2 separate regions of the Homo sapiens genome follow, and region 1 is linked to region 2. Evidence: fine-mapped QTL for protein levels in blood plasma. Region 2 holds a variant in brackets. A gene starts in the other region. All regions are shown on their forward strands.

Evidence for each region. PIP is the chance, under the fine-mapping model, that this variant and not a neighbour inherited with it causes the effect. The UK Biobank Pharma Proteomics Project read protein levels with antibody pairs (Olink). The fine-mapping took linkage between variants from a reference panel, not from the people measured, so its PIPs are less certain.
Region 1: TNFRSF17 starts here. The variant in region 2 is fine-mapped to the plasma level of the TNFRSF17 protein (UK Biobank, PIP above 0.99).

Annotation. Positions count from the first base shown.
Region 1 is chr16:11,960,819-11,969,349 of GRCh38, forward strand. It overlaps TNFRSF17 (TNF receptor superfamily member 17), which reads left to right and starts at 4,392. Exons shown (of 3, transcript NM_001192.3): 1 at 4,392-4,636; 2 at 5,377-5,523; 3 at 6,752-7,250. The coding sequence starts at 4,507. The coding sequence ends at 7,029. It also overlaps a transcript of NPIPB2 not described here and the pseudogene UBL5P4. RefSeq lists a silencer at 2,259-2,428 and enhancers at 3,940-4,059, 4,180-4,619.
Region 2 is chr4:73,407,502-73,410,106 of GRCh38, forward strand. ALB (albumin) reads left to right here. Exons shown (of 15, transcript NM_000477.7): 4 at 1,093-1,304; 5 at 1,854-1,986. Among named protein-coding and RNA genes, the nearest start is that of ALB, 4.5 kb to the left of the region's middle. The variant A/G (reference allele first, on the strand shown) is at 1,145.

The DNA of each region.
Region 1 (8,531 bases), not on the chromosome of region 2:
GCTAAAATCTCTCCTTGCTTGACTGTTATGGGAGATTTTTTTTTCTTTCTTTTCTTTTTTTTTTTTGAGACACGGTCTCACTCCGTAGCCCAGACTGCAGTGCAGTGGCGCAATCTTGGCTCACTGCAACCTCTGCCTCCCAGGTTCAAACGATCCTCCTGCCTCAGCCTCCCAAGTAGCTGGGATTATGCACGCCACCACGCTTGGCTAATTTTTGTATTTTTAGTAGAGACTGGGTTTCACCATGTTGGCCAGATTGGCCTCAAACTCCTGACTTCAGGTGATCCACCTGCTTCAGCCTCCCAAAGTGCTGGGATTACAGGTGTGAGCCACTGCACCCAGCCTGGGAGATAATTTTTGTTCTCTCCCTATTTCTCTAATCATGTTTGTCCTGTCTCCTTTGCCTGTCTTCCAAAGGTCAGCAATCTGGCAGAGGCTGAGGGAGTGGAGCCTCCTGGGCCAGCTGCTTCAGCTTCTCCCTGTCCTGCCTAGGCAGCCTCTCCCACTTACCTCACCACCTGGACCCCAGAGGAATTTGACGTTTTGATCAATATCTAAGTTCAAAATCTTTCCTAGGCTCAAGTCCTGCATTTAAAAAAAAAAGTATTTTTTTAAATTTCTGCATTTTATTTTCATGATTTTAGCATTTATTATGGACTACTTTAAAAATACAAAAAGAGGCCAGGCGCAGTGGCTCACGCCTATAATCCTAGCACTTTGGGAGGCCGAGGCGGGCGAATCACTTGAGGTCAGGAGTTCGAGACCAGCCTGGCCAACATACTGAAACCCCGTCTCTACTAAAAATACAAAAATTAGCCAGGCCTGGAGGCACGCACCTGTAATCCCAGCTACTAGGGAGGCTGAGGCAAGAGAATGGCTTGAACCTGGGAGACGGAGGTTGCAGTGAGCTGAAATTTTGCCACCACACTCCAGCCTGGGTGACAGAGTGAGACCCTGTTTAAAAAAAAAAAAAAAAAAGGTATGAGCAGTTGTATAATATGCTCTATCTGCCTCCTGGGTGGATACAAATAAAATAGGTAGGGTCTGAATAGACAGACATAAACAGAGGCTCTATTTGGAAAGACAGAAGACTGACAGTGGCTGGGCACTGTGGCTTACACATGTAATCTCAGTACTTTGGGAGGCTGAGGCAGGAAGATCACTTGAGCCCAGGAGTTCAAGACCAGCCTGGGCAACATGATGAAATCTCATCTCTACAAAAAATACAAAAATTAGCTGGGCATGGTGGCATGTGCGTAGTCCTAGCTACTCAGGAGGCTGAGGTGGGAGGATCGCTTAAGCCCAGAAGGTGGAGGCTGCAGTGAGCCCTGATGGTGCCACTGCACTCCAGCCTGGGCAATAGAGCAACACCCTGTCTTAAAAAAAAAAAAAAAAAAAAAGGCTGGGTGCGGTGGCTTGCACCTGTAATCCCAGCACTTTGGGAGGCCGAGGCGGGTCGATCACGAGGTGAGGGGATTGAGACCATTCTGCCCAACATGGTGAAACCCTGTCTCTACTAAAAATACAAATATTAGCTGGGCATGGTGGCGCATGCCTGTAATCCCGGATCATGAGGTCAGGAGATCGAGACCATCCTGGCTAAGATGGTGAAACCCCATCTCTACTAAAAATACAAAAACAAAATTAGCCAGACATGGTGGTGGGTGCCTGTAGTCCCAGCTACTCTGGAGGCTGAGGCAGGAGAATGGCATGAACCTGGGAGTCGGAGCTTGCAGTGAGCTGAGATAGCGCCCCTGCACTCCAGCCTGGGTGACAGAGCAAGATTCTGTCTCAAAAAAAAAAAAAAAAAACCAAAAAAAAAGAGGAAGACTGACAGTAATTACTGCCTCTGGCAAGAGAGAGGAAATCCAGGGTAGGAAAAAGACTTACTTTTCATTGAAAAATCTTTGGCACTGTTTGAATACTTATTTTTTAATAATATGAATTTTAAAAACAAGAATTATCAGTGGCTGGGCGCGGTGGCTCACACCTGTAATCTCAGCACTTTGGGAGGCCAAGGCAGGTGGATCACGAGGTCAGGAGACTGAGACCATTCTGCCCAATATGGTGAAATCCTGTCTGTACTAAAAATACAAATATTTGCTGGGCATGATGGCGCATGCCTGTAATCCCAGCTATTCCGGAAGCTGAGGCAGGAGAATCACTTGAACCCGGGAGGCAGAGGTTGCAGATCGCACTACTGTACCCCAGCCTGGCAACAGAGGGAGACTCCATCTCAAAACAAACAAACAAACAAACAAACAAATAAATAAAAAATCATCCAGGCTAGGTGGCTCATGCCTGTAATCCCAGCAGTTTGAGAGGCCAAGGCCGGTGGGTCACCTGAGGTCAGGAGTTCGAAACCAGCCTGACCAACACGGTGAAACCCCGTCTCTACCAAAAATACAAAAACTAGCCAGGCGTGGTGGCATGCACCTGTCATCCCAGCTACTCAGGAGGCTGAGGCCAGAGAATCGCTTGAACCTGGGAGGTGGAGGTTGCAGTGAGCCGAGATCGCGCCATTGCACTCCAGCCTGGGCAATAACAGTGAAACTCCAGCTCAAAAAAAAAAAAAAAAAGAATAAGTTTTTAAAGGTTGGGGTGCTTGGAGGATGAAATAAAGTAGAAGGGATGGCAGGTTTCCTTGGCACACTCCTTGGGCCTTAAGAAAGTGTAAAGAATAAGAAAAATACAACAAAAGGAAAACAACAAATATCAATGTATCCACCACTCAGCTTAATAAAGAAAATATAATAAACACAGGTGAAGCCTTTTTTGTGCTCCCCTTCTTCCCCACCACTTACCTCAGAGATAATCACTATACTGAATTAGGAGTTTGCCATTTCCTCAAATTTTAATTGAGTCCTGCATTTTTGACAAACATCTGGACGTCTCTATATGGGTATTTCACTCAGTATGGTTAAAAGCAAATTCAAGCTGGGCTTAGTGGCTCACACCTGTAATCCCAGCGCTTTGGGAGGCCGAGGTGGGTGGATCACTTGACCCCAAGTGTTTGAGAGCAACCTGGGCAACACGGCAAAAACCCATCTCTACAAAAAATACAAAACTTACCAGGCGTGCTGGCGCATGTCTGTAGTCCCAGCTACTTGGAAGGCTGAGGTGGGCAGATCACCTGAACCCAGGAGGTGGAGGCTGCAGTGAGCTGTGATTGTGTCACTGCACTCAGCCTGGGAGACAGAGTGAGACTCTGTCAAAAAAAAAAAAAAAGGCAAATTCAAGTGATCCATTTATGTAAACAGAAAAATGCACTATATAAATGTATCTATCTAGAATTCAGGGATCGGTGAAACAAAAGACATCGCATCGGCAGGTCTGTTTGCAACTTCTGGGATACACCAGGTGTTAGCGGTGATGACTTCTGGATGCTTGGACTGTGGATTTTTAAAATGGTTTTATCTGCTCATCTGTATTTCTAAATTTTCAACAATGGAACATAGATTATTGTATTATTATTATAATACCCCAAACCTATCTTCCTCTCAGCCCTCTTTCCACGAGCTCTTACCCTAAATGTCTCTTTTTCTGTCAGTGGCATTGTGCGTCTTCCTTAGTGCATCACCTCTGATCTTCCTGTAGAATTTTTTTTTTTTTTGAGATAGAGTCTTGCTTTGTCACCCAGGCTGGAGCGCAGTGGCCTGATCTTGGCTTACTGCAAACTCCGCCTCCTGGGTTCAAGCACGTCTCCCTGCCTCAGCCTCCTGAGTAGCTGGGATCATAGGTGCCTGCCACCATGCCTGACTAATTTTTGTATTTTTAGTAGAGACGGGGTTTCACCATGTTGGCCAGGCTGTTCTGGAACTCCTGACCTCAAGTGATCCACCTGCCTCGGCCTCCCAAAGTGCTGGGATTACAGGAGAGCGCCACGGCGCCCAGCTTACACCAGACTACTTTTTAAAATGTTTTTGTAAAGTCAGGGTTTCGCCATGTTGCCCAGGCTGATTTTGAACTCCTGGGCTCAAGCAATCCTTTTGCCTTTTGACTCCCAAAGTCCTGGGATTACAGGTGTGAACCCCTGCAGCTGGCCTCAATGTTAAGATCTTAAGGGGCACAGCACAGACCTTGTCTTGTCTATCTCCCTGGCACCTCTCACAGAGTACAGCTTATTAACAGATGTTCCAGAAACTGTTACTGAACATTCGGCTTGATGCTGTGGGCTTGTCTGCATCTTGCAACTGTCACCTGGCTGAGAAATTTCTTCTATAAATAAGCAGTTTCTGTTTCAGATGTGATATGCCCTGATATTTACACCCTGTCTCTTACCCCATCCAAGACTCAAACTTAGAAACTTGAATTAGATGTGGTATTCAAATCCTTAGCTGCCGCGAAGACACAGACAGCCCCCGTAAGAACCCACGAAGCAGGCGAAGTTCATTGTTCTCAACATTCTAGCTGCTCTTGCTGCATTTGCTCTGGAATTCTTGTAGAGATATTACTTGTCCTTCCAGGCTGTTCTTTCTGTAGCTCCCTTGTTTTCTTTTTGTGATCATGTTGCAGATGGCTGGGCAGTGCTCCCAAAATGAATATTTTGACAGTTTGTTGCATGCTTGCATACCTTGTCAACTTCGATGTTCTTCTAATACTCCTCCTCTAACATGTCAGCGTTATTGTAATGCAAGTAAGTAATATTGCTTGAACGATTATTCATTGGTGTGAACTATTCTGTCTATATGGACTGCTTATTCAGAGAATCAACATAATGGGCATGATGGTGAGTTTTCTTGAATCAAAAAGAGAAAGGAAGCAAGGCAGTGATTTTAATGTTTATGGAAACAAAGTAATTATTTGGAACTGAACTTGATATGATTCAGCACTATTAGCAACATAGATTTTTTTTAAAAATCAGCTCTTCTAATTAAGTGATATTTAGAATTTAAAAGTCAATGTTCATTAATTAAGGTGATTGAATGGAAATAATCCATACTTGATTATTTTGCTATCAAAACAATCCATAATTCATTATTTTAGCAAAATAATCAAGTATGACAGCCGGGTGCGGTGGATGGCTCACACCTGTAATCCCAGCACTTTGGGAGGCCGAGGTGGGTGAATCACCTGAGGTCGGCAGTTTGAGGCCAGCCTGGCCAACCTGGTGAAACCCTGTCTCTACTAAAAATACAAAAAATTAGCTGGGCATGGTGGCACAGGTCTGTAATCCCAGCTACTCGGGAGGCTGAGGCAGGAGAATTGTTTGAACTTGGGAGGTGGAGGTTGCAGTGAGCCGAGATCGCGCCACTGCACTCTAGCCTGGGCAACAGAGCAAGACTTTGTCTCAAAATAAATAAATAAATAATAACAATAAAGTATGTGAATATTATGTTATCAGCTCATTATCTGTCTGATGTTCTTTTCATAAAGGTGTGACCAATTCAGTGAAAGGAACGAATGCGATTCTCTGGACCTGTTTGGGACTGAGCTTAATAATTTCTTTGGCAGTTTTCGTGCTAATGTTTTTGCTAAGGAAGATAAACTCTGAACCATTAAAGGACGAGTTTAAAAACACAGGTTGGTTTGATGGTGAATCTTTGAAATCTATTTCCAGGGGATGGCTATTGTGAGTTTCAGTTCCTTTTCTTTTTTTAGCGTTGACTATTTCACTTCGTTACAGCCCTTTCGAATGTGTTAGAACATTGTTACATTAAATGAACTTGGTAGAGGTGAGCCATCTTCATTCTGATTTTGACACCTTGGCAGATTTTCTACAATGTCAGTCTTCTCCAGGATTCTTCCACTGTTAATTACTCTATTGAAAGTACTAAGGCTTTCTTGGGAAACATCAGTCTCTTTGACTAAAGTTAGCACATCGATTAAATGCCACATTATCAGAAACTCCTAGCCAGGTCTGCTACTGTCAGGAAAAGCATATTTGTCAAGATCTATGGTCATGTTTTTATACAAATATAGGTGTTCTTTGCTTGAGTGAACATTTTACTACTGAAAAATGTTAGAAATGAATAACCAGTTGCTCCTGAATTATTTGAGGAATCATCTAAAAAATAATTATTTTTAAGCAATAGAGAACCAGTCCCAGAAAAATGAATGTTCTACTTAAGTGCCTCTTAAGATAAAAATACTTCTGCAGCACCTTTGCTCATGATTGGATTCCCAAGCATGTACAGCCACTGCCCTATTTCTGTATGCATTTATTTATTTATTTATTTATTTATTTATTTATTTATTTAGAGATGGAGTCTCGCTCTGTGGCCCAGGCTGGAGTGCAGTGGCGTGATCTCAACTCACTGCAGCCTCTGCCTCTTGGGTTCAAACAATTCTCCCATCTCAGCCTCCTGAGTAACTGGGACTATAGGTATGTGCCATCACCTCCGACTAATTTTTGTACTTTTTGGTAGAGACAGGGTTTCATCATGTTGGCCAGGATGGTCTCAAGCTCCTGACCACAAGTGATCTGCCCGCCTCAGCTTCCCAAAGTGCTGGGATTACAGGCGTGAGCCACAGGGCCCAGCACATACTCATTCTTTTTTACTGAAAAGATCTGTTTCAAGCTGGGTGTGGTGGCATGGAGCTGTAGTCCCGACTGCTCTGTAGGCTAACGTGGGAGGATTGCTTGAGCCCAGGAGTTTGAATGCAGCCTGGGCAACACAGTAAGACCCCACCTCTAAAAAATGAAAAAATCTCTCTCACATTGCTTTGAGTCCCGATGTGTACTGCTAAGACTCTCATGACCACATTCTCTGTGAAGTTTGGGTTAATGTTTCCGTTTCTACATAATTAGGATCAGGTCTCCTGGGCATGGCTAACATTGACCTGGAAAAGAGCAGGACTGGTGATGAAATTATTCTTCCGAGAGGCCTCGAGTACACGGTGGAAGAATGCACCTGTGAAGACTGCATCAAGAGCAAACCGAAGGTCGACTCTGACCATTGCTTTCCACTCCCAGCTATGGAGGAAGGCGCAACCATTCTTGTCACCACGAAAACGAATGACTATTGCAAGAGCCTGCCAGCTGCTTTGAGTGCTACGGAGATAGAGAAATCAATTTCTGCTAGGTAATTAACCATTTCGACTCGAGCAGTGCCACTTTAAAAATCTTTTGTCAGAATAGATGATGTGTCAGATCTCTTTAGGATGACTGTATTTTTCAGTTGCCGATACAGCTTTTTGTCCTCTAACTGTGGAAACTCTTTATGTTAGATATATTTCTCTAGGTTACTGTTGGGAGCTTAATGGTAGAAACTTCCTTGGTTTCATGATTAAACTCTTTTTTTTCCTGACATCTAAGTTTTTATTAACGTGAGTTTTTAAAAACAAGCATGTATACCAGTGTGGGGGGTGAGGGTGGGAGAGAAAGGTGGGAGGGGGAAAGAATTCTAACCTATTGATAATAAAGCTCCAGTTTTGGCCAGGCGCGGTGGCTCATGCCTGTAATCCCAGCACTTTGAAAGGCCGAGGCGGGCAGATTACCTGAGGTCAGGAATTTGAGACCAGCCTGGCCAACATGGTGAAACCCTGTCTTTACTAAAAATACAAAAATTAGCTGGGCATGGTGGTAGGCACCTGTAATCCCAGCTACTCAGGAGGCTGAGGCAGGAGAATCGCTTGAACCTGGGAGGTGGAGGTTGCAATGAGCTGAGATAGCATCCCTGCACTCCAGCCTGGGCAAGAGGGTGAGACTCCGTCTCAAAACAAAACAACACAAACAAACAAAAAGACCTCCAGCTTCATCTTCTGCTGGATTTTATAGTGCCCCAAAGATATGTGGTCCTTAAAAATTGTATACCACTTATTCAGGAGTCTTGTTCCTGAAAGGGTTGTTCTTGTTACAGCCCTAGTCTGGGCTGTAATCAGCTTCTTAAGGTCCACAATGGTGTTATCTGTGTAGCATTTAACACAGACCTTCTCCACACTATCCACTCTCCACTGAGGTTGTTGCAAACAACCTCAATCATCCTAGCTGATGCTCATCACCTTGAACATGCTGACATGACAATCTTCTCACTAGAGACCTCTAAACGCTTGACTTACTGAAAAAAACAGCATTCTGTAGATCTCAGTAACCAATTTCTTTTTCTTTTCTTTTTTTTTTTTTTGAAACGGAGTCCTGCTCTGTTGCCCAGGCTGGAGTGCAGTGGCATGATCACAGCTCACTACAACCTCCACCTCTCAGGTTCAAGCGATTCTCTTGCCTCAGCCTCCCGAGTAGCTGGGATTACAGGCACGTGGCACCATGCCCTGCTGATTTTTGTATTTTTAGTAGAGATGGGGTTTCACTGTGTTGGTCAGGCTGGTCTTGAACTCCTGACCTCAGGTGATTCACCTGCCTTGGCCTCCCAAAGTGTTGGGATTACCGGTGTGAGCTATCGCGCCCGGCCCCAGTCATACGCTTCTATGGTTAGGGCGCTTCTCTCCGATATACATACATACAGATTTCAGGAAGGATCGGATGTTTCTCTTGATTTTTGAATTTTATTTATTTATTTTTTGAGACAGTCTCGCTCTGTCGTTGACACGGGAGTGCAGTGGTGCGATCTCAGCTCACTGCAACCTCTGCCTCC
Region 2 (2,605 bases):
AATTTGTTGATTGATAGACATTTAGGTTGGTTTTCTACATCTTGACTATCATGAATAGTGTTGCAATGAACACAGGAGAGCTACTATCTCTTAGAGATGATATCATGGTTTTTATCATCAGAAAACACCCACTGATTTCTATGCTAATTTTGTTACCTGGGTGGAATAATAGTACAGCTATATATTCCTCATTTTAGATATCTTTGTATTTCTACATACAATAAAAAAGCAGAGTACTTAGTCATGTTGAAGAACTTTAAACTTTTAGTATTTCCAGATCAATCTTCAAAACAAGGACAGGTTTATCTTTCTCTCACCACTCAATCTATATATACCTCTTGTGGGCAAGGCCAGTTTTTATCACTGGAGCCTTTCCCCTTTTTATTATGTACCTCTCCCTCACAGCAGAGTCAGGACTTTAACTTTACACAATACTATGGCTCTACATATGAAATCTTAAAAATACATAAAAATTAATAAATTCTGTCTAGAGTAGTATATTTTCCCTGGGGTTACAGTTACTTTCATAATAAAAATTAGAGATAAGGAAAGGACTCATTTATTGGAAAGTGATTTTAGGTAACATTTCTGGAAGAAAAATGTCTATATCTTAATAGTCACTTAATATATGATGGATTGTGTTACTCCTCAGTTTTCAATGGCATATACTAAAACATGGCCCTCTAAAAAGGGGGCAAATGAAATGAGAAACTCTCTGAATGTTTTTCTCCCCTAGGTGAATTCACCTGCTGCTTAGAAGCTTATTTTCTCTTGATTTCTGTTATAATGATTGCTCTTACCCTTTAGTTTTAAGTTTCAAAATAGGAGTCATATAACTTTCCTTAAAGCTATTGACTGTCTTTTTGTCCTGTTTTATTCACCATGAGTTATAGTGTGACAGTTAATTCTTATGAAAATTATATAGAGATGGTTAAATCATCAGAAACTGTAAACCTCGATTGGGAGGGGAAGCGGATTTTTAAATGATTTCCTGACCAAGCTTAACCAGTATATTAAATCCTTTGTACTGTTCTTTGGCTATAAAGAAAAAAGGTACTGTCCAGCAACTGAAACCTGCTTTCTTCCATTTAGCATACCCTTTTTGGAGACAAATTATGCACAGTTGCAACTCTTCGTGAAACCT[A/G]TGGTGAAATGGCTGACTGCTGTGCAAAACAAGAACCTGAGAGAAATGAATGCTTCTTGCAACACAAAGATGACAACCCAAACCTCCCCCGATTGGTGAGACCAGAGGTTGATGTGATGTGCACTGCTTTTCATGACAATGAAGAGACATTTTTGAAAAAGTAAGTAATCAGATGTTTATAGTTCAAAATTAAAAAGCATGGAGTAACTCCATAGGCCAACACTCTATAAAAATTACCATAACAAAAATATTTTCAACATTAAGACTTGGAAGTTTTGTTATGATGATTTTTTAAAGAAGTAGTATTTGATACCACAAAATTCTACACAGCAAAAAATATGATCAAAGATATTTTGAAGTTTATTGAAACAGGATACAATCTTTCTGAAAAATTTAAGATAGACAAATTATTTAATGTATTACGAAGATATGTATATATGGTTGTTATAATTGATTTCGTTTTAGTCAGCAACATTATATTGCCAAAATTTAACCATTTATGCACACACACACACACACACACACACTTAACCCTTTTTTCCACATACTTAAAGAATGACAGAGACAAGACCATCATGTGCAAATTGAGCTTAATTGGTTAATTAGATATCTTTGGAATTTGGAGGTTCTGGGGAGAATGTCGATTACAATTATTTCTGTAATATTGTCTGCTATAGAAAAGTGACTGTTTTTCTTTTTCAAAATTTAGATACTTATATGAAATTGCCAGAAGACATCCTTACTTTTATGCCCCGGAACTCCTTTTCTTTGCTAAAAGGTATAAAGCTGCTTTTACAGAATGTTGCCAAGCTGCTGATAAAGCTGCCTGCCTGTTGCCAAAGGTATTATGCAAAAGAATAGAAAAAAAGAGTTCATTATCCAACCTGATTTTGTCCATTTTGTGGCTAGATTTAGGGAACCTGAGTGTCTGATACAAACTTTCCGACATGGTCAAAAAAGCCTTCCTTTTATCTGTCTTGAAAATCTTTCATCTTTGAAGGCCTACACTCTCGTTTCTTCTTTTAAGATTTGCCAATGATGATCTGTCAGAGGTAATCACTGTGCATGTGTTTAAAGATTTCACCACTTTTTATGGTGGTGATCACTATAGTGAAATACTGAAACTTGTTTGTCAAATTGCACAGCAAGGGGCCACAGTTCTTGTTTATCTTTTCATGATAATTTTTAGTAGGGAGGGAATTCAAAGTAGAGAATTTTACTGCATCTAGATGCCTGAGTTCATGCATTCATTCCATAAATATATATTATGGAATGCTTTATTTTCTTTTCTGAGGAGTTTACTGATGTTGGTGGAGGAGAGACTGAAATGAATTATACACAAAATTTAAAAATTAGCAAAATTGCAGCCCCTGGGATATTAGCGTACTCTTTCTCTGACTTTTCTCCCACTTTTAAGGCTCTTTTTCCTGGCAATGTTTCCAGTTGGTTTCTAACTACATA